2 separate regions of the Homo sapiens genome follow, and region 2 is linked to region 1. A link means that fine-mapping ties the variant in region 1 to the expression of a gene that starts in the linked region. Tissue or cell type: left ventricle. Region 1 holds a variant in brackets; the other region holds the start of a gene. All regions are shown on one strand. Distances are between the middles of the regions.

What was found. PIP is the estimated chance that this variant, and not a neighbour inherited with it, causes the effect.
Region 2: it holds the start of VILL, and the variant in region 1 is the best candidate, but not a certain one, in a credible set for the expression of VILL in left ventricle (GTEx, PIP 0.89).

Annotation. Positions count from the first base shown.
Region 1 is chr3:37,750,590-37,753,493 of GRCh38, forward strand. The region is part of intron 23 of ITGA9 (integrin subunit alpha 9); the gene reads left to right. Among named protein-coding and RNA genes, the nearest start is that of ITGA9-AS1, 110 kb to the right of the region's middle. The variant C/A (reference allele first, on the strand shown) is at 1,457.
Region 2 is chr3:37,989,309-37,992,212 of GRCh38, forward strand. VILL (villin like) reads left to right here and starts at 1,478. Exons shown (of 20, transcript NM_015873.4): 1 at 1,478-1,521.

The DNA of each region.
Region 1 (2,904 bases):
CACTATTGCTTTCAGCTTTGAGCCAGCCCATTCAAATTTTGTATTCCACCCTACCCTGACATCCACCTTGAGGGTTTGGAAAATTCAACTCATTCTACCCTTTGGAGACATATCTGGAGAGGCCAGGGGACCTGTGATACCTGAATTTCTACATTGAGACCATTTGGTTAATGCTGTAAGAAGACCTCTTTGGAGATGGGGAAGAGTTAATTACGAACCAGCTCCTGGGATGGACTTCGCTGGCTCTGGGAACCCCCAGCAGCATCTGCAGTTGCATGCGTCTGAATGCATTTTGCTGAGTGCATTTTGCACAGGGAAAGTGCCTGCAGTCCATGTTGAGAGGATTGTGAAAGCATTGCTCTCTATAGGGGCACGTGAAGGACATTCAGCCAAAGGGACAGTTTTTCCATAGATAGCTTGAAAATCAGGGCAGCAAGGCCCATATGGAGCAGGTGAATATCTGAGCCGAGAGTTGAAGAGGACACAGCCCACAGGGTGGAGGTTCAGAAAACATTGTGTGATGGTGACAGTAATTTCTGGCATTGCTGCCCTCTGGGTCATGTGGACTGAAAACCAGACGCATGTGAATGTTGAATGTAGAACAGGTCACTCCTCCCGAGATGCCAGCTCAGATGTTAACATCCCTCATGATGTTCCATTCCAGTTCCATGGCATCCCCTTGTCTTTGGGCTCTGCTGACCCAGCAGAAGAAAGCCGCCAGTGTTCCGCACCTATGATGTACTATGGTTGGAACTTAGCATGAGGTGAACAAACCACACAGGCTTCTGGCTACCCTCTTAAATATTATTAACCATGCTGACCATGCCACATTTCCCCAGCATCTAGGAGTGTTCTCTTCCTAGAGCATGCTTTCTGAGTTGTTCACGTGAACATCTACAGTGTTGCAGGAGCCTTTTTTTTTCCTATGGGCAAAATCATCTATTGACCAAAACAAGACATTTAAGTCACTCAGATTCTGAAGGTACCCCAAAACCAGGGATACCCCTTTTCCTCTTTACTGATCATCGAGCCAAGGAAAAGCCACTGGAAGGGACTTGGGCTCACACTTACAAATAGCTGGCTTGCATGGAAGGCATTAGAAGTGGTTTCCTGAAGACCTGGACAACTGCCTGGCTATCGTTCTGGCTGAGTGGACCCTCAGATACCCAAGTGGTGTGAGCTGGCTGCACTCTGTTCTTTGGGCTCTGAGAAACAAATCCTTTGGATTTTCAAAACTATATTTAGAATTTTCATAAAGTCTGTAACAGACTTGGCCCTAGGATGGCCAAGTCTCCATCTGGATAGCCCAGCCTGTGATCAAAGGCTGTGGGCATCTTCATCGTATGGAAAAGTAAATTCACTGGCACATCTCACTAAGCAAGTAGGAAAGCTCTCTGTGTTCTTATAAACGATCACCACTGAGCCCAGAATGACAACAAGAGTAGAAGCATAAAAG[C/A]GAGTGCATGAGGTGCTGTAGTGAAGAGGCGAGAGTCCCCAGATACTTGTTTCAGAGGCCCACAGCTGGCACACCCTCTGCCTTAAAGCCCTCGGCAAGGGCCTCCTGTGGCTCCGCCCCTCCCTTGCTCAGTAGGGCCTGAGAATGCTCACTGGGTCAGGTGTGATTCAGAGCTCATGACGGTTTCCACTTTGGCCTTATGGGACTTTGAATGGAGCAGGGCTTTCATTCTGGGGATTTGGGTGGCTTGGTGCAAGTGAAATTCAGTCCTATTAGGAGAAACCAGCACTCATTCTCTGTACTGCACTAGGAGGTGACCCTTTGGCCTGGTGGCATTCCCTCCCCACCCCCACTCTCAGCCACCACCATTCCCCAACCTCCAAAGGCTACTGAACAGCTGGGCACCAGCTGGACATGTTAAGCCAACTGAAGCAGAAACAGATTATAGGCATGGAGGGAAGGCTCATCTGTCATTCCTCTCCACACCCTTGGGACCCTCAAATTGTTTCTCCCTCTCTAACAGTGCCCTTGGTGTCTGTATTGCCTGTGATCATCATCCATAGAGCATAATGAGGATGGGCTTACTCGCCCTATGGGCCCTGGGCTGTCACCCTACCTACGGACCCACGTGTGGCACAGTTTTCTGACTTGGTTCAGAATTCATTTAGAAGTCTCTGGGGCTGCTTCTGGGGTCCCTGGGCAGGACCAACCTGCCTCTAGCTTTCACCAAAGAGTCTTTTGTGTTTGCCCAAAGCATTTCTTGAGGTCCAGCTGTCTGTAAGTGGAGAGTGTCTGGCTTATATATGGGAGGTTTTTACGGGGAGCCTAATGAAGTGTAACCACTCCAAACTCCCAGCCTTGGCTCGTGATCTTCTTTCCTTGTAGCTAATGTCTCTGAGCCCCTCTGCTGTGCTTGTATTTACCTTAAAAACAGAGCCACGGTGGTGGCCTGAGGAAAGACTATCAATTTTCACTGCTTCCCACCCACGGGGGTTGTGTGGACCCTACTCTGACTTCCCACAGCACAGAAAAAAAAGGAAACAGGTCACTGTGGACCTAGTGTCTGTCCATCAGGAAGCCAGGTTGTAATGATCATGAAAATAATAGAGGGGAAGAATGACAGACCTTTCTAGTCTATCTGAAATAGCAAAATTACTAGTAACAAATCATTCTTGATTTGTTCACAAACACTGGCTCAGCAAGTACCTATTACGTGCCAGGCTCCAAGGAGAGGAATAAGTCCCACATCTGCCCCAGAACTCACTGTCTTGCAGGAAACAGATACATAAAATGCCATTGTAATACCGTATAACAAATGCAATAATGGAGGCATGCCCAGACCCCAGGATGCTACAAAGGTTCAGTGCTTCACAAAGGAACCTCTTCAAGTCAGGGCTTAGAGGATGTCTAGTTCACCAAGAGAACAGGTGAAGAAGAGAACATTCCAG
Region 2 (2,904 bases), 240 kb after region 1:
GAGACTTAGGCCGGGGCAAGGTTCGGGGGAGTTGGGTCAGGGAGACACTGGCGTTTCCATGCTATTTGCAGCCTTCAGACTGGAACTGGGAAGGAAACTGGAAAACAAACAGGAGTGAAGGCCCAAGCTCTGCTCCTGCTGCCATTTAGAGGCCTGAAGGAGACAGGTGGAGTGAGAGGGGAAGGAACAATGGTGACTGAACTGACTGCCGCTTGGTTGACAGCGGGCATTGGTGACTTAGGAAAGAGCCATTGCCAGGGAATTCAAGAACAAACAGAGCGGGTGGGCTGAGGGGAGATGGGGGAAGAGTCGGTGGGAAGAAGTGAGGACACAGAGTCTTCCTGGGCACAGAGACAAAAAGGGACAGGGAAACGGGTATGCACAGGTACAGTGGACACACTGCCACTGTCACAGACAGGGTCCCTGTCCCAAGTGGGGATCAGACAGACATGCCAGGATACAGGCACACACATGAGGTCGGACAGGCAATGGCACACATGGGGACGAGCCAAATGCCTGTGACACAGGCATCCCTTCACACACAGGGACCCTGCATTGTGTCTGTTAAACACAGTCACACACTAGCTGTAGGTCTTGCTGGACACAGACTGCCCCCGAGTCCCCAAGTCCCCAGACCCCTGTAACAGAGACCTTTGTGGGGTGAAGACTGAACACAGGGAGAGGGTCTTGGGCAGTGGGCAGGCTTTAGCAGCGTGGCTTTGATGGGATGGCCCACGCTGGCTGGGCCTTGGCTGGGACTGAGGCCCTAAGCCGCCAAGAGGAGGTTGTGCCCCTGGAGTTTCTGGAAGGCTCTGTTTGCAGCCCCTCCACCCCACAGTGAGAGAGAGAGAGTGGCAGTGGAGTGGCAGCTGAGGTGAGGGAGAGGTGTCTTCGCTGCAAGAGCTGGACTGGCCTCTCCCATGATGGGTATCAGGGTTCCCTGAGGAGGGCTGTGCCAGGCAGTGAGCTCACATTTGGGTAGGGACAGCAGAAATATCTAGAGGGAGCCCTGACCACCTTCCCCTCCTGAAGTGAGCTGGGTCTCACAGAGCCTGACCCCACAGCCCCCAGCCTTGGTCCTACTTCCTCCTAAAGTTTGCTGGAGTGGCCTGGCCCTCTTGGTCCAGGCGGAGCCCACCACTCCGGGTGAGGGATCAGGGGCCCATCTAGTACTCCAGAGAAGGAAATCCCAGTATCTTCCACACCCCACCTCTTAGCCCAGTCCAGGCCTCCATCCCCTGCTCTCTCTGGCCACTGGTACCCAGGCAGTGAGACCTGGGAGACTTAACCATAGCCCTGGGGAGGGCGCTGGTCCCGACGGCTTGCTCGATATTTGTTGACTGGCTGACTAAGTGAATGCCTAGCCCGCTGAGCACTGTGTGGTGGGGTGTGTCCTGCAGGGCAGGAGCTAGGATTGAGTTACAGTGGTGGGGACCAGGAGTAGGGAGGCAGAGACTGGCCCCGTGCCAGGCCTAGCACTGCCCACAGGCAGGGCGAAGGCGCGGGAGCAGTTTCCAGCAGGTAGGCCTGGGCAGAGAGTTGGGGGGCGGGGGTTTCCAGGGAACCAGTGGGGCAGAGTGGGCTATTCAAGTCAAGGGCATAGAGCATAGGGTCCCAGGGCTCAGGGCCACAGAGCCTCCGCGGCAGAATTGGGAGGCGGCAGCAGCCCAGCAGGTGAAAACACTGATGGGGCAGGGCAGCTGTGGCCGGCAGCCCAAGGGGAAGAAAGTGGCAGATTTTGTAGATGGGCAGGGAAGTCCGTGGCCCACAAATTCAGTGTGCCTGCCCCCAACCCTGGCCCCATCCTCCTTTCCCCTCACTCTAGAGGGCGGCACCACTCCCTGCTCCATGGAAACTGAGCAAGGTAATCTCGGGCTCCCTTCAAAGGTACCCACAAAAGAAGGAAGGGCTCCTGTAGGGAGAGAAAGAGGCACTGGAGGAGGGAGAAAGCGAGGAGAGAGGAGGCACCCAGGGACACGAGGGGCAGGGGGAGAGAAGAGGGGGTGTGTGAAGCGGGTAGGGAGTGCCCCGGGAAAGAGAGGGGAGCCTGGGGAAGAGAAGGAAAGACCTGGGGAGGAGGGTGGGGAGGGAGAGAGGGAGGGGTGTAGGGGAAGACAGGGAACCAGGAAAGGAGGAGGTGCCTGGGGAGGAAAAATGGGAGAAAAAGGGAAGGATCCCAGGGGAGAGGGGAAATCAGAGGGGAGAAAGAAGAACCAGGGGGAGGCAGGGGCACCCAGTGGGGACAGAGGGAAACCCTGGAAAAGCGGAGGCGTGGGGCATGGGGAGAGAAAGGGAAACCAGGGAAGGAATTGGGCATCCGGAAGAGAAAGGGGCCCTGAGTGGAGGAAGTGCACCCCCAGGGAAGAGAAGGAGGGCTTCTAGGAGAAGGGAGAGGACCAGGGATAGGAGGGTTCCCACTTGGGAAGGTGGTGAAAGGGAGTTCCCCAGAGGAAAGAGGGCAGGAGGGTTTGGGAGGCTGGAGGGGGCACTGTGGGGGGTTCCCCTGAGGAAAGAGGGCAGGAGGGCTTGGGAGGCTGGAGGTGGCACTGTGGGGAGGGAGGAGGCCCCCAATCTTTGAGCACCCATTCCTCCCTGGAGTCCAGGTGAAAGAGAATGAACACAGGTGCCATGCGAGTGCGACCTCAGCCCTGGCAGCTGAGGGCTTGGCTCTACGGGCTGGGGCTGGATATCAGACGGGCTCCCGGACCCCTGGGGGCGATGCTGCCTCTCCCAGTGACACCAGCCGAGTCCCAACTTTTTGGCTGCCAGTTTGACTTTCCAGTCCCCCATGTGCCCTGGTTGACACTGTTCTGAGGCCATCCAGTAGTCTTTCTGGCACTCTGTCACCATGTTGTACTCTTCCATGAGCTACAGCTCACAGTTTCTGTCTGCACCTCTGGTCAC